Homo sapiens: one gene and its partners. The protein of the gene in region 5 interacts with the protein of the main gene of each other region in a pairwise test. Each region holds a gene or a part of one and is shown on either strand. Other genes may lie near its edges.

The links.
Region 1: the proteins of MS4A3 (region 5) and STX8 interact in binary tests that used the Homo sapiens proteins (3 or more experiments, as listed by UniProt).
Region 2: the proteins of MS4A3 (region 5) and CD72 interact in binary tests that used the Homo sapiens proteins (3 or more experiments, as listed by UniProt).
Region 3: the proteins of MS4A3 (region 5) and EFNA5 interact in binary tests that used the Homo sapiens proteins (3 or more experiments, as listed by UniProt).
Region 4: the proteins of MS4A3 (region 5) and TEX264 interact in binary tests that used the Homo sapiens proteins (3 or more experiments, as listed by UniProt).
Region 6: the proteins of MS4A3 (region 5) and PLP1 interact in binary tests that used the Homo sapiens proteins (3 or more experiments, as listed by UniProt).
Region 7: the proteins of MS4A3 (region 5) and CD53 interact in binary tests that used the Homo sapiens proteins (3 or more experiments, as listed by UniProt).

What each region holds. Positions count from the first base shown.
Region 1 is NC_000017.11:9,565,821-9,569,320, forward strand, and holds part of STX8 (syntaxin-8), read right to left. Parts: intron 2,651-3,500; coding exon 2,551-2,650; intron 1-2,550. UniProt on the Homo sapiens protein: Vesicle trafficking protein that functions in the early secretory pathway, possibly by mediating retrograde transport from cis-Golgi membranes to the ER.
Region 2 is NC_000009.12:35,609,482-35,612,447, forward strand, and holds the end of CD72 (B-cell differentiation antigen CD72), read right to left. Parts: intron 2,439-2,966; coding exon 2,323-2,438; intron 1,273-2,322; coding exon 1,143-1,272; 3' UTR 1,121-1,142; intron 820-1,120; coding exon of another isoform or gene 669-819; 3' UTR 501-668; downstream 1-500. Other genes in the region: TESK1 (dual specificity testis-specific protein kinase 1), read left to right, coding at 1-261. UniProt on the Homo sapiens protein: Co-receptor of B cell receptor (BCR) that plays both positive and negative roles on B-cell functions. Recognizes the Sm/ribonucleoprotein (RNP) self-antigen ligand, and coligation of CD72 and BCR inhibits BCR signaling.
Region 3 is NC_000005.10:107,380,938-107,384,437, reverse strand, and holds part of EFNA5 (ephrin-A5 isoform 1 precursor), read left to right. Parts: intron 1-3,061; coding exon 3,062-3,183; 3' UTR 3,184-3,500. UniProt on the Homo sapiens protein: Cell surface GPI-bound ligand for Eph receptors, a family of receptor tyrosine kinases which are crucial for migration, repulsion and adhesion during neuronal, vascular and epithelial development.
Region 4 is NC_000003.12:51,698,752-51,702,251, reverse strand, and holds part of TEX264 (testis-expressed protein 264), read right to left. Parts: intron 2,847-3,500; coding exon 2,678-2,846; intron 1-2,677. UniProt on the Homo sapiens protein: Major reticulophagy (also called ER-phagy) receptor that acts independently of other candidate reticulophagy receptors to remodel subdomains of the endoplasmic reticulum into autophagosomes upon nutrient stress, which then fuse with lysosomes for endoplasmic reticulum turnover.
Region 5 is NC_000011.10:60,055,445-60,059,464, reverse strand, and holds the start of MS4A3 (membrane-spanning 4-domains subfamily A member 3), read right to left. Parts: upstream 2,801-4,020; 5' UTR 2,725-2,800; intron 1-2,724. UniProt on the Homo sapiens protein: Hematopoietic modulator for the G1-S cell cycle transition. Modulates the level of phosphorylation of cyclin-dependent kinase 2 (CDK2) through its direct binding to cyclin-dependent kinase inhibitor 3 (CDKN3/KAP).
Region 6 is NC_000023.11:103,779,840-103,783,339, reverse strand, and holds part of PLP1 (myelin proteolipid protein), read right to left. Parts: intron 1-3,500.
Region 7 is NC_000001.11:110,879,648-110,883,147, reverse strand, and holds part of CD53 (leukocyte surface antigen CD53), read right to left. Parts: intron 1-3,500. UniProt on the Homo sapiens protein: Structural component of specialized membrane microdomains known as tetraspanin-enriched microdomains (TERMs), which act as platforms for receptor clustering and signaling.

The DNA of each region.
Region 1 (3,500 bases), on a different chromosome or scaffold from region 5:
AAGACTTAACTGTAAAACCTAAATCTATAAAAACCCTGGAAGACAACCTAGGCAATACTATTCTGGACATAAGAACAGGCAAAGATTTCAGGACAAAGACATCAAAAGCAATTGCAACAAAAGCAAAAATTGACAAATAGGATCTAATCAACTAAAGAGCTTCTGCACAGAAAAGGAAACTATCCACAGAGTGAACAAACAACCTACACATTGTGAGAAAATATTTGCAAGCTATCCATCTGACAAAGATCTAATAGCCAGTATCTATAAGGAACTTAAGCAAATTTACAAGAAAAATCCACCCCATTAAAAAGCAGACAAAGGACACGAATAGACACTTTTCAAAGGAAGACAGGCATGCTGCCAAAAAAAACAGGAAAAAAAGCTCAACATCACTGATCATTAGAGAGGTGCAAATCGAAACCACAATGAGATACCATCTCACACCACTCAGCATGGTTATTACTAAAAAGTCAAAAAATAACAGATGCTCGGGAGGTTGCAGAGCAAAAGGAACACTTATACACTGTTAGTGGGAGTGTAAATCAGTTCAGTCATTGTGGAAGACGGTGTGGCAATTCCTCAACGTACTAAAAACAGAAATACTATTTGATTCAGCAATCCCGTTATTGGGTATATCCCCGAAGGAATAGAAATCATTCTTCCATAAAGACACATGCATGTGGCCAGGTGGGGTGGCTCACACCTGTAATCTCAGCACTTCGGGAGGCCGAGGTGGGTGGATCACCTGAGGTCAGGTGTTCGAGACAAGCCTGGCCAACATGGCGAAACCCCATCTCTACTAAAAATACAAAAATTAGCCAGGCATGGTGGCAGGCACTTGTAATCCCAGCTACTCTGGAGGCTGGGGCAGGAGAATGGCTTGAACCTGGGAGGCAGAGGATGCAGTGAGCCGAGATTGCACCACTGCACTCCAGCCTGGGCAACAAGAGCAAAACTCCGTCTCGAAAAAAAAAGAGAAAAAAAGAGACACATGCATGTGTATGTTCACTGCAGCACTATTCACAATAACAAAAGACATAGAATCAACCTGATGCCCACCAATGGTAGACCAGACAGAGAAAATGTGGTACATATACACTATGGAATATTATGCCGCCATAAAAAAGATCGAGATCATGTCCTTTGCAGGAACATGAATGGAGCTGAAGGCCATTATCCTTAGCAAACTAATGCAGGAACAGAAAACCAAATACCGCATGTTCTCACATTCTGTAGGTTGTTTGTTCACTCTGTTGATATAAGAGAGAGCTAACTGGTGAGAACATATGGATACATAGGGGGACATGACACACACTGGGGCCTAGCAGAGGGAGGAAGCTGGAAGGAGGAAGAGGATTAGGAAAAATAGTAAGTGCTAGGCTTCATACCTGGGTGACAAAATAACGTGTACAACAAATCCCCATAACACAAGCTTACCTATACAACAAACCCACATATGTACCCCTGAACTTGAAAGTTAAAAAATAATTCTAATAACTTTGGAACATAATAACCTCAGCATTCTTAGTAGATTAGTCTACACTTAAAAAGACTCAAATTTTGAACTCAGTGTTTGTCGTGGTACCTTATAGTAATTTTGAAACCATTTTCTGTAAACTGTAAAATAGACCAAATGAGTAAAAACATACTGATGCTTTTGGAAACTAGGATTCTCAGTGTGAGAGAAAGAAAATACAAATTTGGAATGTGGAAAATAAGGAAGAAAGGTGTGGTGTTAGATTTGAATCAGAGGCTTCTATTTTCAATCATAGTCACAAGTATAAACTTGTGATTTCACAAAAATCTATTTCTTAGCCAAATCCCACCACTGTTTTTATACAGCCCAAAACTAAAGATGGTTTTTACATTTTTTTCTTTTTTGAGACAGGGTCTCACTCTGTTGCCCAGGCGGGAGTGCAGTGGCACGATCTTAGCTCACTGCAGCCTCCACCTCCCAGGTTCAAGCAATTCTCCTGCCTCAGCCTCCTGAGTAGCTGGACTACAGGTGTGTGCCACCACGCCTGGCTAGGTTTTATATTTTTAGTAGAGATGGGGTTTCCCCATGTTGCCCAGGCTGGTCTCGAATTCTTGACCTCAAGCAATCTGCCCGCCTCAGCCTCCCAAAGTGCTGGGATTACAGGTGTGAGCCACTATGCCTGGCCTGTTTTTACATTTTTAATGTAAAATGTAAAAACTATAACTATTCTTGTGGTGAGAATGGAAACTCAAAGACTTGAAGACATTATCTCTTGGCCTGCAAAGACTAAAAGATTTATTATCTGTAGGAAGTTTACTAACCCCTGAACTAGACTATAAAATTGTTAGAAATATTTAAAGTAAAACAGGAGAACTTAAATGTGTTATGCCTCATTTAGTCTCAATGATTACATCACTACTAACTGGTTGGGTGTTATGTCAATTCAACATATGTAAGCAGATAGATCATCATACACACATGTGCACAGACAGCCTCAAAGAAAGATAGGAGGGTTTTCAGGCCTCAAAACTCAAACAAATCATTGGGTACTAATTCCTTCATGGTATTACCTTTGGTGCCTTTTCACCTTTTCTTTCATATTGATTTCGTTGTTGAATTTTCTCAGCAATTTCTTGGGCAATTTGACAAGTAGAATCGTATGTGGAGAACCTGCACCAAAGTCGTAAAAAGAGAAAATGTTTAAGGTTCTTTTTTTTTGAGACGGAGTCTCGCTCTGTCGCCCAGGCTGGAGTGCAGTGGCACGATCTCAGCTCACTGCAAGCTCTGCCTCCTGGGTTCGCACCATTCTCCTGCCTCAGCCTCCCCAGTAGCTGGGACTACAGGCGCCCGCTATCATGCCTGGCTAATTTTTTGTATTTTTAGTAGAGATGAGGTTTCACCGTGTTAGCCAAGATGGTCTCGATCTCCTGACCTCGTGATCCGCCCCCTCGGCCTCCCAAAGTGCTGGGATTACAGGCGTGAGCCCCTGCACCTGGCCTTAAGGTTCTTTAAAAGAAATTTTTGCATTGTCTAAGTTTGACATTTTCATTCTAGCCAAAGAATTCAAACAGAGGGGAAGAATAATAACATGACCAGTAAAAGCAACATGGACTGAGCGTTATTTACCATGTGCCAGGCACTATTTTGAAGGCTTCGTTAGTAATAACTCACTTAATCAAAACAGGAACGCTATGAAGTGGGTACCATTACCATCTCCAACTCACACATGAGAAAAGGAGGCACAAAGAGTTAGAGTGACTTGCCCAAGTGGTTCTGCCTGCTGCAAACCAAGGCCGTCTGGCCCCAGAGCCGGGGCTCTTAACAACTGTGCTGTTCTGCCAATGAGAAAGCATGTGGGGGGTCTCCGCTGCACTGGGCACTGTTCTGGGCACTGGAGAAGACGGCAGTAAACAGAATGAACACAGTCCCTCTTTCAAGGAGCTCATATTTTAAGGAAAGAAAGTCATAAAACAATTAAATACATAGTATGTCAGGTGTTGATAGGTGCTAAGAAGAAAAA
Region 2 (2,966 bases), on a different chromosome or scaffold from region 5:
CTGCCCCGGGCGGCAGCCCTGGAGCGGACAGAACCCTCGCCACCCCCTTCAGCTCCCCGGGAGCCCGATGAGGGGCTGCCCTGTCCTGGCTGCTGCCTCGGCCCCTTCAGCTTTGGCTTCCTGTCCATGTGCCCCCGCCCCACACCAGCTGTTGCCCGCTACCGCAACCTGAACTGTGAGGCGGGCAGTCTCCTCTGCCACCGAGGGCACCACGCCAAGCCACCCACACCCAGCCTGCAGCTGCCTGGGGCACGCTCTTAGCAGTGGAGCCCGTGGTCTCAGGCCTCCAACTTTGGCCTTCAGGACACCCTGTAAGAACAGAGCACACTTGCTGGACAGTGCCAGTTCCAGATGGGCTGACCGGCTCTTCTCCCCGTGTAGGGGAGCCCCAGCATGGACTCAAGGGACAGAGCACTTCCAGTCGACCCCCCGGCTCGCGTTCCCGTGGGGATCACTGAACCAGACACAGCATTGCTGACACATGAGACTAACACGTGCAATTATTTAAAAAGATTTCAATAAAACTGCCTGGCTGGCTCCGGGCCGCCCCTATCCGCTCAGCCCGTGCGCCCTCCTCCCCCACCCCATTCTACCATGGGAAGTTCTTGGGGGGAGGCCAAAGTCCCTTCTAGAGGTGGCTTCACCCTTTTCCCAGGAACAGTCCAGTTTCAGGAAGAGGGAGCAGGCAGCAGACTGGCTGGAAGTGTCAGGTGTGGGTCAGCCGGTGGCTGGGCACTGCCCAGAATGAAGGAGATGGTCTGAGGAACCCCAGGCCTCAGGTTAGGAAGGAGGGGCACAGGTTCTTGTTGGCATGAGTGTCTGGAAAAGTAAAGTATCAGTGAGCTCCATGGTTGACTTAACTGAACCCTCATCCCACTCACCCCATCTCCTCCTCAGCTCTCGACAGCCACACCACCAGCCTCCCATAAGTTGTAGGCCTTACCTGTCCCTCCCTGCCCACCCCACCCTAACAAGCAGACCAAGCAACTGGAGGCTGTGGAGGAACTTTCATCCCAGGTACAAGTTTTCTCTCGGGCCCCTGGGCCCCTGCTCTGAGTCCCTGCTCTGAGTCCCTCTGCCCCTGGACTCCCCATGCCTCAGCCCCATCCCTCACTCTTACCAACTCAGTGCAAAGGACTGTCCTAATCTGGAAACCTGAAAGCTGTCATCTCACAGATGTAGGGAAGAGAACTTCTACATGACTCTGACTCCAGTGTCCACCATGACCAAGTTTTATGTACCTTGTTACATTTTGAGCTTTGAGCATAAGTCCTAAAAAGTAGTAAGGTAGAGCTGGGATATGCTCTGGACATATCCCACCCTCCCTTCTCTCCCCTTCCCCTGTATAAAACCTAAATCCTAACTCACCCTGCCTGCCTAAGGCCACATCTGGGCATGGTTCAGGACAGATGTCTGGAGTTCAACTAAAACAGACTTTAGAACCAGCAGAGGGAAAAATAACTCGAGATCTTAAAGATGGGAAGGCCAGGCTGGGCACGGTGGCTCATGCCTGCAATCCCAGCACTTTGGGAGGCCAAGGCGGGTGGATCACAAGGTCAGGACATCGAGACCATCCTGACTAACACGGTGAAACCCCGTCTCTACTAAAAATACAAAAAATTAGCCGGGCATGGCGGTGTGCGCCTGTAGTCCCAGCTGCTGGGGAGGCTGAGGCAGGAGAATGGTGTGAACCCCTGAGGCGGAGCTTGCAGTGAGCTGAGATTGCACCACTGCACTCCAGTCTGGGCGACAGAGCGAGACTCCATCTCAAAAAAAAAAAAAAGATGGGAAGGCCAATTGAGGAACATAAGGAGGTTGCCACCCTGTTTCAGGGTCCCTAGGGTTGATCCTCAATGGTACCCCACTGCTGTCTTGATCACAGTGAAGTGGAGCTTCGATGGTACCCCCGCTGCTCCCTTGCGTACTTCACTGAGGCAGCTCTAGTGCCCCAAGTGGCCGCTACTGAGAAAGTACAACCTCAGTTTGGGTGGCCTTCTCGAAGGATGGAGAAACGCTGCTGTCATCAGCTGTGGAGCCTTAACTAAATCCTTAATGTCTCCCCCTAAAAGATAGCGTAGGTCCCAACCTAGTAGTTACTGAAACAAAAAAGTATGTGCCAGGGACTTCTAGGTGGAAATAGAATGGAGAATAAGATTGCCCTAAGAAGTTATTAATCAAATAGAGGAAACAGACAAATAGGCAATTACAGTGTTGATTTATGGGAGAGTCCTGAGGGGACCAGGTGGGAAGGAAATCTGATTACCATGTCTTTATGGAGGGGATTATGGAGTTGAAAATACCCAGAAGTCCTAACAAACTTACCTAGTGCGTTGTGTATCATCAGTCAACTTCCAATCCTTGTTAGAGCTGAGGCCAGTCCAATATGAATTCCCTGAACCACCATTTGGCAACAGTGAATTTAAGAAGTAGTAAGAGTGCTGAGGGGAGATTCAGAGAGACCAGAGATACATGGAGAGTGATGAGAAATATGGAAGAAAATGCACACCCTAGGGAGGCCTCAGCTTTGGCAAGGGGGCTGTATATATGACAGCTCTTTGGTAACTTGTCCCTGAATCCATCAAGTGCCACCCTGCAGATGCAGGCTCACTGCTAAATTTGCCTTCCAGCTGAGTAAGAATCTCTGCCAGCCTTTGGAGGGGAGTCATTCTGTGTGCTGTTCTGGCCCCAAGGAACTAATCCCTACAATCCAGCCCACCAGGTGTGGGACCTCTCTGCCTGAGAGGCCACAAGAGTCCAGGAACCTGTCAAGCAGCCCAGGGAGCTGACCAGCAAGCTGAGATGAGATACACATTAAAGTAGAGGCCGGGCGCAGTGGTTCACACCTATAATCCCAGCACTTTGGGAGACTGAAGCAGGTGGATCACCTGAGGCCAGGAGTTAGAGACCAGCCTGACCAATATGGTGAAACCCCGACTCTATTAAAAATACAAAAATTAGCTGGGCGT
Region 3 (3,500 bases), on a different chromosome or scaffold from region 5:
CTTTTTTGTTTGCTTGCACACTCTGCCTGCCAGTTTCCTATCATCAGGGATGCAGGATGATCTCAGGGCAGACATATGCCACATAACATGCTCCAAAATATCGCTAGTGTTCTCTCCGTTAACCATTGAAACCCCCATGTTGTGGAATCCTGTAGCCAGGAGGCAAAACTTGATTTGACTTCTGAAGAGGAACGTTTTCTTTCTTCTTCCAAGCCTGTGTTACAAGCGTTAGAAATTCTCTCATGTTTAGGTGTAGTTTCCATTGGGATAGATTTTACCTATGAATTCCTCCTTAGAATTCTGAAATTGCTCAGATTTACCCAAATGACAGCCAGTTTCTCATTTCACATTTGGGGGCTGTAGAATCTTCCAACATTGAGAACCTGTTTTAATCAAAGGATGCTTTGTGGAATCCTGAATGAGGAACAGCATGTTGCAGGAAGAAGAGAAGGATCCTGATGCCCTAATGGGACTGATTTCCTTTTGGGGGGCAGGAAGATATATATTCGTTGGGTGCTTATAAAAGGTTAATTCCAAAGATTGTGTATGGTTAAAGGACTGAAAGTCACACTTAGCCTCATACTTCACTTAGATGAAAAACAAAAGCCTTCCTCTCCATTACCTTGTAAGATCTATTCCTTGTGTCTTGTGCTGAGTGGACCTGGAATAATGGATAGCCCTCACTGAGTACCTAGAAGGGACTAGGGTGGTGATGAAGGGGTTCACACCGAAGATCTAAGTGCTAGCTGGGTACCTTTAACAGTACACTTGCAAGCTATACAAGGAGAAGGATTGGGTAATATGCTAGTAAAAATAAGATGGAGAGGAATCCAATAGCTGATGCAATTTCAGGTGTTTAAGTATGTGATATTGTGAAATGAACTCTGGAATCCTCAGGGTTTGTGGTTATTTCACAGTTAAGCCTGAAGTGCTCCATTGTTTTGATTGACAACATATTGGTGCTCTTAAGAAAGTGATTTGGATTTTAATTTCAGGGCTATTAAGGGCCTTTACTTCTACTTCCTATTAACTACAGATTTAATTAATACACTTGCAAGGCTGAAAAAGAGCAGAGAATAGAAGAGGGTCTGAAGGTACTTGGCCACATTGTGGAGGACTTTATATATATTTTTTCTGCATCCATTTATCTTACCATCTTGCTTCCTAACCTTTTCTAGTCTCCTAAGCTAAAATCACTCCATGCAGATTCGCTAAGGTCCAGGAAAGGGGAGCACATTTGACAAGGGGATGCAGTAGCTTTTATTCGAGGGGAGGCTAAAATGGTAAGAGCACTCCAGGTCAGGAGACTCAACACTGAGAAGACCTTTCTCATTGGGAATGGATGTGATGGACAAAACCATCCCAAACGAGCATATCTGAAGCAGGGGTCAGCCTGTGAACCTGAAAAGTGGTTACTTTAGGACAAATATTAGCGAGTGTGATTCTACCCAGTGAAGGAAAAGCACCCTTATTGTGACACGTGTGGTAGGAAAATACAAATGAGTTTAAAATAATGGTTAGTTAACCCATTAAGGGGTTTGAGGTGGGTCATCCAGGGGTATTTAGGGATTATCCTTTGAGGTCAGTATAATTGAGAACAACCACTAGAGCCTTGTTACCATTCTGTCTGGCCCTTGAGCAATTCCCAGATGGCAACTGCTGAACACCTGCAGGAAGTTACCCTGATGCTGAGATAAAATTTGCACAGGGGCTCACTATTGGCCCCCAAAATGTGTTATTCAGAGATCCTTAGTCTAAAAGCACAAGTGGCCAGGTATAGTGGCTCATGTCTATAATCCCAATCCTTTGGGAGGCCAAGGGAGGAAGTTGGTTGAGGCTGAGTTTGAGACTAGCCTGGGAAGCAAAGGAAAACCCTGTCTCTCTAAAAATTCTTAAAATTAGCCAGGCATCGTGGTTCACACCTGGAGTCCCAGCTACTCGGGAGGTTGAGGCAGGAGGATTGCTTGAGCCCAGGAGGTCAAGACTATAGTGAGCTATGATTGGGCCACTGTACTCCAGCCTGAGCAACAGAGCAAGACCTTACCTCTAAAAAAATATTAATTAATTTAACTTAATTAAAAGTAAATAAAAGCATAAGTTAGGTCAGGTGGAAAGAAGAAGACAGGCAGCCCTGGAGCAGAGCTTGGCTCCTAGGCAAGCCTCCAACCTCTCTTTGGTACTAATTGCTTCAGAGTTCCCATTTGGAAGTTAAGCCTGTTAATCATGCAGATCAGGAAGGCTATCCAAAGTCAGAGGCAGCCTCATAGAACACTTTATAGCTAAATAAAAGAAGCTTAACTCACTTAATCTATTTTATTTAGAGGAAAATTTGCATCCACGCTGATAATTTATGTGCCAAGCTTCAGCCCGATAAAAATAAAAATAGTCAAGTTCAAGTAATTTAATCTTAGAAATACAGGGTTTGTAATAGAAATAGCACCATAATTGACACCTAATTGCAGGCAAACTAGTGGGCATACGTTTATTGAAGTTTACTAGGCATGATGTATAGTTTATCCAAAATGCTGCTGTTTTGGCATTTAGTTTTTCATGTTTGAAAATTCGTCTAGGCATCCAACAACCAGGCATTCAACACTAATCCTATGAAACAGCTAAAAGAAGGGAAATGGGCAGCGCATTCTGGTTAACCACTACTGTGCCAACATAACTGCCCCTTCCCCCACCCCCACCAACATGTCACTTGCTTGCCTGTGACATCTTAGGTTTCAAAGGTACATTCAGATATCTGAAATTTGTGCAAGGCGTGTCTGACTGCTGGCTAACCAAAGCAGCTCACAGGCCAAAGGTTACGGTGTATGCATAATTTTTCCCCTCAATTTTTAAGGAAAGTATTAATATTGCTGAGAAAGTCCAATTTTCTTTGCCTCTTCTTTGTTTGCTGTAAATAATGAGTGATTATGCAGACATGAAAGTCAATGGTGGCACAAGGTTCATTACCCTACTTTGCAGAGGGTGGCGAGGTCTGTTAACAGCAGGCTGCTGCAAGAGAGTTATTAAGGATGTGAAATCTCATTGGAATGTGTGCTTTCTATTTGAACAGATGACACCGTACATGAGTCAGCCGAGCCATCCCGCGGCGAGAACGCGGCACAAACACCAAGGATACCCAGCCGCCTTTTGGCAATCCTACTGTTCCTCCTGGCGATGCTTTTGACATTATAGCACAGTCTCCTCCCATCACTTGTCACAGAAAACATCAGGGTCTTGGAACACCAGAGATCCACCTAACTGCTCATCCTAAGAAGGGACTTGTTATTGGGTTTTGGCAGATGTCAGATTTTTGTTTTCTTTCTTTCAGCCTGAATTCTAAGCAACAACTTCAGGTTGGGGGCCTAAACTTGTTCCTGCCTCCCTCACCCCACCCCGCCCCACCCCCAGCCCTGGCCCTTGGCTTCTCTCACCCCTCCCAAATTAAATGGACTCCAGATGAAAATGCCAAATTGTCATAGTGACACCAGTGGTTCGTCAGCTCCTGTGCA
Region 4 (3,500 bases), on a different chromosome or scaffold from region 5:
CCAGGCCCTCACTGCTCCTTAAATAATGATCAGTGCCCCAGGGACCGCAGGCCTGAAAAGAGCAAAGGAGGGAGACAGTTTCTCCCTGGCCCTATTAAACTGTATGTTCTGTCTGCCCACCCACCCAATGGCTCTCTTGGGACCCCAGGTATAGGAATGTGCCTGCTTCCCAGCATGCTACCTCCTACCACCCAGCTCCTAGGCTAGGAATGTTCAGAGGAAGGAGCCTAGGGGTGCCTCCTTCAGGCCAGGACAGCCTGCTGAAATGAAGACAGCCCCTGGAGACATATATACACTTCAAGCAAAGGAATTCAGCTGGAGGCCAGGCACGGTGGCTCACGCCTGTAATCCCAGCACTTTGGGAAGCTGAGGCAGGTGGATCACATGAGGTCAGGAGTTCCAGACCAGCCTGGCCAACATGGCAAAACCCCATCTCTACTAAAAATACAAAAATTAGCCGGGCATGGTGGCAGGCACCTGTAATCCCAGCTACTCAGGAAGCTGAGGCAGGAGAATCGCTTGAACCCACGAGGTGGAGGTTGCAGTGAGCCAAGATCATGCCATTTCACTCCAGCCTGGGCAAAAAAGGAAAACTGTCTTTAAAAACAAACAAACAAAAAAAAGGAATCCAGCTGGGCATGGTGGCTCATCCCTAGAATCCCAACACTTTGGGAGGCTGAGGCAGGATCACTTGAGCTAACAAGTTCAAGGCCAGCCTGGGCAATATGGCGAAACACCATCTCTATAAAAAATACAAAAACTAGCCAAGCATGGTGGTACACGCCTCTTGTCACAGCTACTCAGGAGGCTGAGGTGGGAGGACAGCTTAAGCCTGGGAGGGAAAGGTTACAGTGAGCCGAGATCTTGCCACTGCACCACTCCAGCCTGGGCGATAGAGCCAGACCTTGCCGCAGAAGAAAAAAAAAAAAGGAATGCAATACGGGGAAGTAGCATCCCTATACCCCCACCAAGATCTACACAGGAGGAGGTCCCAGAGTCCCATGCCTGCATCCCTGGGCAGAAGATACCAGGCAAGGCAGGGCCCTACCTAAATCCCCACGACTACTGGGGCAGGGGACTTGAAGCCCACCCCCTTCACCCAAATCCCTCCCTCTCGCTCTGCCCACAGCCAGTGCAAGACGATCAAATATTCATCGCCTCTCTGAAGCTAAATAATACATCAATGTAATAACAGGCACAAGGCAGCTAATCACCCCCTTTCACCTCCCGGCCTAAGCTAGGGCCACAGCAGGGAGGCGGGCAGGGACAGGCCAAGCCTTGGGCAGTCAGACATCCTGCATGCACCCACCACCAACTGCTGTGTCAGTGGCATGCACCTGGTGGGCAAACACCGAGTCCCGCTGGGGTGTCAGGACAGGCCCTGTGAGAGGTGGGCAGACCCCTTGGCCCCAACACCAGGGAGTGGGTGGGCGGGCTGGAGGGGAGGAAAACAGGCTGAGGAGCTGGGGAATGTGGGAGCTGCCACTACAGCCAGCTGTAGTGGGTGCCAAGCAGTCCTTCAATGACCCTGACAGGCAGTGTTTGGGAGGGAAGGAAGCTGGGTGGGTGGGTCAAGGAGGGGGAGGCAGGCAGCAGAGGGAGGTCACAGTAAAGTGAAGGCACTCTGTCTTCCTGCCCTGGAGGCTGCCTGGGCCTGCTGACCTTGTGCCATGTCCTGTGCCCACAGTAGGGGCACTGAAGAGTGTCTGCCGGGCACTACCAGGCAGAAGGGAGCTGTACCCCATGGAGGTAATTAAGTGGCAGATGAAGTTAACTGTGTTGGACACAGGCCCCTAGGGAGTAGAGACTGCTCCCAATACCCTCCTACCCAGCCCTAGCTGACACGTCTCCCTAGGGTGACCTTGGCTGTTGAAGACTGGATGGGCAGAGCATCTGCTAAAGAAGGAGGAGAGGAGGGACAGTTCCTCTCCCCACAGCCCTGTACCACTCCTAGAAGTCACAAACTCCACCAGGTTGGCCAAGGATAAGGCCCCCTGGGACCATCTGGGATGTAACCCAGCAGACCCCCTTGTGCCTGAGACAGCCCGGGGTCACAGATCATTGCAGAGGGGTGGGCAGGCAAGCAGCCTTCCAGCCTGGACCTGGGGCCTTGAGGCTGCCAGCAGGAGTGTGGGCTGGCCCTGGAGAAAGGCACAGGTGACTGATCTCCTGGCTCCCCTCTGCATGCTCCCTGGTTGTTCCCTGGCAGGGAGAAAGCAGCTGGCTCTGGGTGGGGCCCGTACTGAGGGACAAGAGAACACTTTGCTCCCCTCCTTACCTTCCAGATCTATGCCAATCTTACTTCCTGCTGAGCCCCACCCAAGGGACTCCTTTCCTGAGCAGCCTCAGCCCCCTCCCATGAACATCGAGCTGTCTGTGATCTTTGTTTCCAAGGGTACTCCTGCTGCATCTGGAGGGAATCCAGGCAGGGTCTTTGTATCTGTGTTGCCAGGAGGTAATGTGTGTGAATCCACATCTATGTAGATCCATGTGTCTGGGAACAGGCAACTCCACATGTGGGTCCTCAGGTAGGTGGGTCTCCTTCCTCCCTCTGCCAAGCATAGCCTGACACCCACAGTGCCAACCCAGAGAGGGAGGAGCCTCCTCAACCAAGCCCCTGGAGTCCAGAAGAGAGGAGCTCCAGGAGGGCCCCATCCTCATACCCCACCTTCTGTACCTGTGCCATCCACCTGGGTGTCAATGGCCTCCACAAGCCCCCGCCATTTCCACTCTGTCTCCTTCATCTCAGGCACATAGAAGTCTCCCTGCCGTGCCAGTGGGCACATGAAATGGATCTGGTCTTCCTGGTAGATCTCCAGCCGAGGATAGGCACACAGCTTCCGCTCCTAGTCAGAGAGTGGCAAAAGGTAGAATGAGCCCTACAGGGCCCCTGACTCACTTGTCCCTGGGTGACCCCCAGAACTGTCTATTACCTATTCTGTCCCAGGGGCTGGCTCTGCCTCTCAACCTCTTCCAAGTTCCAAAGCCCTGCTGAGGGAGGCACACATAGATCACCCTAACAGCAGGGCCCCATAGTCCAGAGTGCAATAATAGTCTGAAGACCCAGGACGACACCCTAGGGCAGGTGGTAAAAGAACCCAGGAGCCTGGCACTGCTCTCCTATGTGTACATCTGAGACCAAAAAGCTGTTCCAGAAGGCACTGGTCTCACAGAGCCATGAAGCTTGGCACCCCTGGACCACCCCAGGATAGGGACCCCATGTGCCTAAGCCAAGGTCTCACCTACCAGACTTTCCATCCCAGGACCCCCTGGCCCTGACCTCCTCTCCACCCTGGACAACGCTGACTGACCCACAGATATCAGAAGACCAGCACCCCCAGTCCTTAGGCCTCCAGCCCCTGCTCTTGCAGACATGCTACTATAGACCCTGAACAAGGATCAAGGCCAGCTAAACACCACTTCCACTCCCATTCATTCCCCTGCTAGTTTAGAGCTATGTCAACCTCTGAGACTATCAGGTATGGTTCCCATACCTCCTC
Region 5 (4,020 bases):
GTGGCACGAATTTACCTATATAACGAACCTGTACATGTACCCGTAAACCTAAAATAAAAGCTTTTTATTGAAAAAGAAAGTATAGTATCTTAATTTCTACTCTTTGTTACAAATTATATACTAGATCCATTTTTCTAATAACTTAATTTTTTGTCAAGCTAAATACACGCCACTTTCAGGATGTTTACCTTTCTGATACTCTACTCTGGGGGTGTGTATGACTCATTTAAGTGTGATGACAAATTTACTAAGCATTGACTAAAAGTGAGAGTCAAGCCATGTTTTATTATTACACTGGGAATTGCTATAAAAATTCATAAAATTCTCTACCAATACTGATAAAACATTTATTATAAATGTCATAAAATTTTGCTACCAATACTCTTCATCAAAGTTTCCTACCAATATTGATTTTCATGCCAAGATTAAATTACATTCTGTATGTATTTAAGTATGGATAAATGTGAAATGACAAGGAACCCTTAACCCCCCGTGTTCAACACTGTACAGAACCCAAGAGCGAGGGAAGATCAATAAAGCTTAAAGCAAACTCTATGTGAATAAGTTCCTAACGTAATTATCTGCAAAAAGTATAAATAAGAATAGCCAAAAAGCCAAGACTTCAAATTTATCCACTGGGAAATTTGTGTGTATTTTGGATTAAATATCTAATGAACTAAGATGCATGCAATACGGAGAATGTTGCTGCTTTATGACCAGATAATCTCTCGCCTACGTCTCCTGCCTCACCCCTCACCCATCCCTATCTCAAAACTCCATCCAGCCTTATTTTCTTGATTTGTCTTCCTTCAGAAGTTCTAAACCCTCAAATGTCTTCAATCCTCTGTGCTATCCCCCATTCCTGAAAGACAAGTCCCCTCAAGCTTCACCTGGATAATTTCTGCTCTCCTTCCAGACTGAATTTTTTTTTTTTTTTTTTTTTTTTTTTTTTTTTTTTGAGTTGGAGCTTTGCTCTGTCTCCCAGGCTGGAGTGCAGAGGCCCGATCTCAGCTCACTGCAACCTCCGCCTCCTGGGCTCAAGCTATGATCCTGCCTCAGCCTCCCAAGTAGCTGGGATTACAGGCGTGCACCACCACACCCAGCTAATTTTTGTACTTTTAGTAGAGATGGGGTTTTACCATGTTGGCCAGGCTGGTCTCGAACTCTTGACCTAGGTGATCCACCCACCTCAGCCTCCCAAAGTGCTGGGATTACAGGCGTGAATCAATGCGCCCGGCCCTTCCAGACTGATTTTCAGCCCACATGTCATACTTCCAGGATGCTGTTTTTAGTCCTGGCCAACTCTGGAAGAAGCATGCACCCCTTTGGGTTGCTCTCAAAATTTCCTCAACTTTCCTTCTCATACCACTTAATCAGCCTGAGCTTTAATTGCCTGGATACTTGTCTGTTACCTCGTTGTCTACTCATCACTGCAACTCCAGTGCCTAGCTCAGAATCATCAGATGGCAAGCACTCAGTTAACACACATGTTCAATCAGTAACCAGACTTTTGGTCCAGCCCAAGGTAGCCATCCTGATAAATGATGATGGAAAATACCTCTGCAAGCACTGGAGCCTCTCATCTCAAGAAACTCCAAGAGCATTTCTGAAGAGAGCAAATATCTAACCATATTATTTAACTTGATTTGTTTCAAATAATCAAAATAATCAGGGAGAATTTTCAGCCTCCAGGTGAAACAAACTATGTTTTCTAAAATTTGGTTAAATCAGTTATTTATTTTTAAAAAAATCAGAGAAATGGTCCGGGTGCAGTGGCTCATGCCTGTAATCCCAGCACTTTGGGAGGCAGAGGCGGGAGGATCTCAAGGTCAGGAGATTGAGATCATCCTTGCTAACATGGTGAAACCCTGTTTCTACTAAAAACACATAAAATTAGCTGGTTGTGACAGCACGCGCCTGTAATCCCAGCTACTCAGGAGGCTGAGGCAGGAGAATTGTTTGAACCCATGAGGCGGAGTTTGCAGTGAGCCGAAATCGTGCCATTGCACTCCAGCCTGGGTGACAGAGCGAGACTCTGTCTCTCTCTCACACACACACACACACACACAAAATCAGAGAAATGTAGATTTTCTAGGAAACTGCCAGTTAAGTTCATCTCTCCAGCTCTTAGTATGTGGCAGGCATTTGTTCTAAGGGCTTTATCCATGTTTACTAATTTAGTTCTCACAACATCAGATGAATGGGTACTACTGCTATGATCCTTTCCATCTAACAGATGAAGAAGCTGAGGAACAAAGAAGTTAAGTAGCTTTCCCAAGCCCACACAGCCAGCAATTTGAGAAGCTAAAAATCAGAACCTCAAGCTATCATTACACTCCACTGTCCCCTGAGCTATGCTAAAATGCACTTTGCAGACCCCATACTTCAGGCATATCGAGACCACCCCTCATCATCAGAGCTGGCAGACAAACTCAGGTGCAGCCAGTGGGATTTAATGTACCTAAGAGGTGCGTGTGCATGTGTGTGTATCCATACCCACATTTTCCCAAAGAAATTGCTGTATTATTATGTCTAACACTTTTTATCATGGCTCCAAAGGAATCATCACATCCTAAAGAGAAGCCATGTTCACAGTTAAATGTTCCAAACCTCTACATAGCAACCAAACAGAGACCTTTGCAGACATCCCCAGTAGTCCACTGGGAGGCATTTTAACGAAAGATATAAAAGAAAGGGGAATGTCTATGGAGAGGGAATCTATACCTTGGAGGCTTCAGGCTTTGGCAGACGGCTTTCCTCCCAAGTCCACCTTGTCGCAAGTAGGAGACACTCAGAAAAGATCACTACAGCATCTTTTCCCGATAACGGAAGCCTCCACAGACTTAACGTTATCTTTGCCTTATGCAACACTTTAGAGGACTTGGTGAAAGTGTTTTGCGGGCTGACTGACCAGTGTGCTAATCACATCTGCATTTGGGGCCTCGCTGATCCATTGTGTTTCCCCAGGGCTTAGTGATGATTAGGAAACTGGTGTGAGGGATAACTGTCTTCTGGCTTTCAGATGTTGCTTAACACATTGCTGGAACAGGAAACACAAGCAACAATATGGGTAGACAAGTGGGAAGAGGTTGTGGGTTGGAGGTAGAACAGTGTTAGGTGCATAGCAAGAAGAGACAAAGTCACACTGTAAGAGAAGCATCTGGAGGAGGGAGGTGGTCACTCAGGCACTTATTTTACATGATGTGCCAGCAACGGTGCTATGTACCTTATATGCGTGATGACATTCAATTCTTACATGCTTAGAGAGGTTAATTACTTTGCCCAATATCACAGATATAATAATAATGCTAATTATTGTTTAAATGTATTAAATGGTTACTACATACAGGTCATTGTTCTGAATGCTTTACATATGTTAATTCATCTCATCCTCACAATAACCCAGGACCCAGGTACTACTATTAACCCGATGTTATGGTAGAGAAAACTATGGTATAGAAATGTTACCCAGCTTTCCTAAAATTTAACTGGAAAAGCCCTGTGCAAAATCTCTGTTTTGTACAATGGTGAAGCCCGAAGTGTGCCTGTTATCCTAATATGATTGTTAAAACCCCTCCTTTCAGTTTCTTTTTTGTTTTTTGGTTTTTTTAGGTTTTTTGTATTTGTTTGTTTGTTTCGTTTGTTTATTGAGATGGCGTCTCACTCTGTCATCCAGGCTGGAATGCAATGGTGCAATCTTGGCTTACTGCAACCTCCGCCTCCCGGGTTCAAGCAATTCTCCTGTTCCAGCCTCCTGAATAGCTGCAACTACAGGCATGCACCACCACTCCCAGCTAATTTTTGTATTTTTAGTAGAGACAGGGTTTCACCGTATTGGTCATGCTGGTCTCGAACTCCTGACCTCCGGTGATTCACCTGCCTCAGCCTCCCAAAGTGCTGGGATTACAGGCATGAGCCATCGCGCCCGGCCTCCTTTCAGTTTCAAAAGTGGCCAAATTATATGCTTATCCTAAATAAATGTCCTAAAATAGGCAATAGAAAGATCAGAGCCAAGTGACA
Region 6 (3,500 bases), on a different chromosome or scaffold from region 5:
GCTGTGAGTGGAGGCTGAGTTTACTCAGCATGAACTTTGCAAACGTGCTTGGGAAGAGTGTCTTTTCAGAGCTGGCCCATGGGTGTGTCTGTGTGTGTGCACACGCACATGCATGCATGTGTACAAATGTGCACATACACACATGTATACCACAGAGAAAAACACAACAACTGAAATCGATTGTTGTTCTCAGAAAACATTCCAGAAATTGATCTTCCTCTTTCTCAACAGGTTAAGATACTAGATTCAGCCTATAAGTCAAGAAAAGGAGCTTAGAAGTAAACAGTACTGCCATTTTCCTTCTCTGCCTATCCAACTCCTCCCCACCCCCAAACTCTTAGACTTTTCTAGTAAAGAAAGTCTCTGAAGCCTGGGGATGGGGGGAGAAGAAGGTCAGTGACCCCACTGTTCCCTTTCTCCCCAGCACAGGGTCAGGGCTTGGACAGAGCCCTCCATAGCTCCCCCGGACAAAGAAGCCTTGTTCTTTCCTGAGATCTCAGGAGCCTGATTGGTATTCCACAGGGGCCTGCAGCCGGGGGGTGGGGAGGGGGTCAGACTCAGGGAACAATGGCAGGACTGTTTGTTTAGCCGAGGGTAAGAAGAGCCATCCACCCTAGCAAGTGACCATCTTGGGCCTACTCACTCATCCCAGCATTTTCATCTGGGAAGGGCTAAGTGCTTGTGCAGGTATGGTCAGGGATGGAGGAACTTGAACTCTTGCTAGCCAAAAGAGAACTCCACTTTAAGCGTTAGGTGATGCCACCTCTAGGGTTGCAAAGATGAGAGGGAAACATCCTCTTGAGTGTATCTGATCCCTCAATCATCATCCAAATAACCTGAGAGTGTCATGGATTGTGTTCTTACTGGGTGATAAATGGCTAAGCCTTAGGAGCAATTCTGAGTCACCAGATCATAGCCTTTCTTTTTACATCCATTTTTCCTCTATTTTCTTAGAACTTGAATAACTTAGCATCCCCTTTTCTGCTCCACTACAGCTCAAAGCAAGGGACAAGAAAGAAGTAGGCTTTAATGAGTTTCTAATGTAAAGTCTGAAATAAATGACTTTAGATAAATCTATCACTATTAAGCTATAAACAATTCAGTAATATCAGCATAAGCATCAGATGTTCATCTCTTCACAACCTAGATGAAATGTTTGCTTTGGGGGCATTTAAGTTCAGCAGAAGTGAAGAATCTCAGTCAGTCTGTCCAAGCAAGAATCAGATTTTAGATTCTAACTGAGAAAAACTCAGAGCCTGCAAGAAATTATTTTTTCATCAAAGTAGTTGACAATCAAAGCATTCTGAGAAAAGATCCATTGGGCTCCCTTTGATTTTTCACAGTCCAAGAAATGTCCCTTGGGTATGTGTGAACAATAGCCTAAAGCCAAAAGCTCTCCATTTCAGAACCCCTCCTGGTTGAAAGGGTGTGAGTTTGATTCAAGAAGGCTGGAAGAGATTCTAGGGGAGAAGTTCCTTGGCTCTCTCAAGAGACATTCTCACATTTCCAGTCTAAGTACAGACTGCGAGATGAGAGAGTTGGCATAAAAGAACCATATAGTAATAACATTTCTCAATGCAACTCAGTCAGATTAAGCCACCTGACTTTGATGAAAGGTCATAGAGAAAAATAATGACCCCCTCCAGTGTTTTTCTTTCATTTCTGTTTATGTGAATTCAGTACAAGAATTAAGCACACTAGCAGTGACATAGACATTAGGAGAAACAGAAGGGAATTAAAAGGCCAGTCCCTTTCTTTAGAAAACTTGAAATCCTGTTGGGGTGAACAAACATATGTCTGTGAATCAAAATCTAAAGCTACCTATAAGCAAGTGTTAAAATGGATATAACGAAGTTGTGTGGGCAAAATGTAAGCAAAGGGAAAAGATCATGTCATGGTTGGCTACATTTGTATACAAACTCCCAAAACAAGTCTAATCAATCTGTGATAGTTGATACTCCAACTTTAAGCCCTTCTCACCAGCGCTCTTCACAGCGGTCTGACAGAGATCAACAGAACCAATGTGACTTACACAGATCCAGGTTCATCAAGGGACTGTGTTGATCCTGATGCTGTCTCTTTAAGCAGGCACCAAGAGCTCCCAACCCTCCCTCCCTCCTTTCCCATGCCCTGGGCCCGCCTCAAGGACCAGCTCCATGATGGAAATTCAGTGTGAATCTGGGAACTCATCAAAGGAAGGAGAGGAAGGGCTTTCATCGAAAGGAATGGTAGAAAGAGACCAATTGTACCCTGCACAATTCCCAGCCTGTCCCTTGAATCCAGCTGACAAAGGGAGAGATAGAAGAACCCTATACAATAGAGCTAAACAACAGGCAGGCTCATTGAGTGAGAAACTGGCCCCACCTCCCTAGGTCTCGAATCTGCACTACAGTCTTACCCTCCTCCCAGAACCCACCCCTTAACCTTACCCCATGAACAGAGGCCTCCTTGATCAGGGCCTGCAGTAGTTGACAAGGCCGAAATGCTAGAGCAGCCGTGACTGGTACTAGGGATGGATGGGGATCAGTGGGTGGGTTCTAGGAGTAAAACAACAATTATCAAGAGGTGCCAGAGACAAACAAAGACTTTTGCTTCGGGCCTCGTCCTGGTCAGACAATGCCCTGCCTATAATCTTGTCTTTCCTACATATCCCTTTTGATATCAGCACTTATATACCACATTCAAGTGCTGGAAAACAGTCCCGAAGTCTCTGGGGCCTGGGAATCCAAGCCTGCTGGATAGTCAAATCATGTGGACAAGGTTAACTAAAAAGGAATCTCAGCCTCCTCTTTGGACACGATTTAGTATTACCACGGCAACAGCATCTGGACTATCTTGTTTCCTATACTCCCCACTCCTCTTCAGACGCGCACACACACACACACACACACACACACACAGAGAGAGACAGAATGAATGATGTACACATTCCAATTTATGTGCAAGCATTGGGAAGCTGAGGTAGGACTTTGATTGTTAAAACTTATCCTTGGCACATTGTCTCCACCTTGCCCACGAATGGGAAGATGAAAGGGAAGTAACTGGTACTAGAGACAATAGTAGCCATACCTTGTTCCTCAGGTCAGTCTCCCACCATTTCCTCCTCTCTCCTTGTTGCAGTGTGAAGCTGATTTGGGGAACCTTATTCTCTTCCTTGGGACTCTTTTCTAGAGCCCTGCCTGGCAGACAGCTCAGAGGCCAGTGCAGAGCTGAGAGATAGCCCTCAGGGCCATTTTGCCGTAGGCAAGAGGGATTAATCAATCAGTACTTGCTGAGCTTTTGATGTAAGTTTGGCACTGAGTAGGCTCTGAAAGCAGGAAAGGAAGGAAAAGCTGCTCCATTCACCTACCATGGCTGCTGTGACCCTTCCTGATCATGTCACTGTCCTCACTTGGTCTTCTTTAGACCTGAAGTGCTGTGGGCAGGGAAGGCATTTCTACTGTTGCTTTCTTTCAAGACAAAGACCTGTACCCAGGGGATGGCTTTCAAGGCTTCAGGAC
Region 7 (3,500 bases), on a different chromosome or scaffold from region 5:
CTTACCCTTATATAAGGAGGAAAATAAGTCTGTTTACTCTTAACTACTCTATTTGGCATTGTACTGGAGTTTCTAGGCAGTGCAAATGAAATATGAAAAGAATGGCATCCAAACTGGAAAGAAAAAAAAGTAAAACTGGCTTTGTTCACAGATATCATGAATGTCTTTGTAGAAAATCTAAATAAATCTACAAAAATACTACTAGAACTAACAAGTAAGTGTAGCAAGGTTGCTAGAAACAAGATTCAATCCACAAAAAATAATAGCATTCTATGCACTAGTAACCATTAGAAATCAAGTATTTTTAAAAGTATCATTTACAATAGCATCATATATGAAATACTTAGGCATAAATCTGACAAAAGTTGTGAAAGAATTGTACACTGAAAACTTAAAAACAAACATTGCTGAAAGAAATTGAAAAGATGCAAATAATGGAGAGATATACCACGTCCATCTACCAGGAATTCAATATTTTTAAGATGTCAATTCTTCCAAATTTATCTATAGATTGTAATCCCCATCAATATTACAGCAGAATTTTTTGTAGGCTTCAAGAAATTAATTCTAAAATTCATTTGGGAATGCAAAAGACTTAGAATAGTAAAAATGAGTTTGATAAAGAACAAAATTGGAGTACAAACACTACCTAATTATATTGCTTTCTATAAAACTACAACAATAAAGACAGGATAGCACTGGTGTTAAATAAATATATCAAGAGAACAGAATAGAGTCCATATGCATATGGACAACTGATTTTCAAAAAAAATACAAAATTAATATATTACAGAATGAAGAATACTTTTTTCAACAAATGGTGCTGGAACAATTGTCTATTAATATGCAAAAATGAACTTGCATTTATACCTCTCTCCATACGAAATCGTAACTAGTGATGAATCATAGATCTAAAGGTAAAATCCAAAACTATAATTCTCCAGAAGGAAATATTTGCAACCTTGGTTATGCAAAGAGTTCTCAGATAAGACACCAAAAGCACAATAAGTTGATAAATTGGACTTCTTCAAAATTAAAAACTTCTGCTCTTCAAAAGACACTGTTAAGAGAATGAAAAGACAAGGCACAGAAGGGACAAAATATTTCCAAATCACACAGGAGATAAAAGGCATGTATCCAGAGTATAAAAACAACTCTTGAAGCTCAATGGTAAGAAAATAAACAATCCAATTTTTAAAATGGGCAAAAGATCAGAACAGACAATTCACCAAAGAAGATACTATATGGATGGCAAATAAGGACATGAAAAAAATTCTCTACTTCATTACTCATTAAGGAAATGCAAATTAAAACCATGGTAAGATACCACTCCACATCTCCTAGAATGGCTAAAATGTTTTCAAAACCTGACCACACCAAGTGTTGGTGAGGATGTAGTGAAACTGGAACTCTTATACACTGTTGGTGGGAATGTAAAATGGTATAACCATGTTCAAAAGCAGTTTGCTCGTTTTGTACAAAGTTAAACATATACTTATCATATGATCCAGCCATTCTACTCCTAGGTATTTACCCAAGAGAAATGAAAGCATATGTCCATACTAGGACTAGTACAGGAAGGTTCATAGTTTTGTAGTATTATTTGTAATAGCCCAAACTGGAAGCAACCCAAATGTCCATAAACAAGTGAATGTATAAATAAATAGTGGTATAATTTTACAATGGAAACTACTTAGCAATTAAAAAGAATGAACTGTTGTTACCCTCTACAGCACAGGTGAATGTAAAAATAATCATGGTGAGTGAAAGAGGTTAAATAAAAAAGAGTACATTCTGTATGATTCCAGTTATATAACATTTTAGAAAATGAAAACTAATCTATAGCAACAGAAAGCAGATCAATGACTGTCTGAGGATGAAGGTGGGGGAGGGCAGGAGGTGAGTAGAGAGGGAGCAGGGAAGGGTGAGAGAAAGGGATTACAGAAGGCCACAACAATCTGTGGTGAGTGATGCATACGCTCAGTGTTTTGACTGTGGTGATGGATTTATGCATGTACACTTACGTCAAAGGCCCCTCCTAATTTGCTCCTGTCCATCACTCCACACTCATGGCAACACCCCCTGTATTATACTTTAAAATTTAGCAAAGCAATATTGAATCCTTGTCTTAATGCTTCCTTCCTTACTTTGGTAATGTGTTTCTTTGCTGAAATTTTCTCTTTTCTTTCTGGCCTCTTATTCTGGTTAGTTACTCATCATCCTAATGATGTGTCACTTTTCCAGGAAGTCCTCTCTGTTTGTGTCTAAGTCTTCACACCCAACCCTCACTTGCCCTAAGGAGTATCTGTAATACCTGTGTACCTCTGCCATTGTACTAACCATTTTGTTTTATAAGTGACTATTCCCTCACTAGAATGTGAGCTCCTTGAGGGTAGGATCTATGCTATTCATCTTTGAATTCTCAAAGCCTCATTACCTCAGAATTATCTGATGTAGTGGAATGAACATGACACTGCAGAGTCAGGAGCCTTGGGCTTGAATTTTCAGTCTGCTAATAAACTGATGTTTTGGACATAGGAAAATAACTAACTCACCCATCAGTAACAGAAAGGAATTGAGCCAGATGCCTCCTAGAGTCACATCAGCCCCAACATCCTGGTATCCTGTGACAATTAGTTCAGGCCCGTGTAACCTGATTGTCCACAGAACACCAGCTGGCTAGGTGCCCACAAACTTAGGGACATTCCTACTGATTCTTTCCTTCACAGACAGGAAGAAGAACCTCTTCTTCCTTCCTCTCCCACTTTCTACCTCTCCAGACTCATACTAAATTGAGTAAGAAAATCTTCTCACCTGGTGAAGATTGTCACTACTTTTGCCACATGCCATAAGGGCCCCAGAGAGAATGCTGCTCCGTTTCCCCTTCCCCTTTTCACTGTTACTGGGCAGTGATTAAGCCTCCCACCCCTTCCAACTACCATCTAGAGGAACCGACACCCCTCCCACAGTCAAAGTCTATGACTCTTAGATGCATGACTCATGGTTCTATGCAAAAAGCCACCAATATCAGTTTCCAGGAAACCTGCGTGACCAAACTGCACTTAACTGTGGCTACCTTCCACAACTCAACATGGAGGTTAGGGATCAACTTTGCTCTTTAGTTTCCTCCAATGGGCTTGAGCTGGTAGAACCTGCGGATTTCTAATTCCATCCCTGTCTTTTTTTTGACCTGTACTAACAGCACCATGTAATCTACTCTTGAATTTAATCAAGCTTAGAAGTGGTTAAGGTTGGATAGAGGCTTCAAGAACCTCGATCAGGCTCGCCATGGTGGCTCACACCTGTAATCCCAGCCATTTGGGAAGCTGAGGTGGGAGAAGCCCTTGAGCCTAGGAGTTTAAGACCAGCCTGAACAACATAGAGAGACCCTGTCTCTATTTTAAAATTTTTTTAAGTTAAAAAAAAAAGAACCTCTATCAGTTCTTCATCTTCAGCCTTATCTGATCCAATATTACAAGCTAGGCTGGAGCCACATAAGA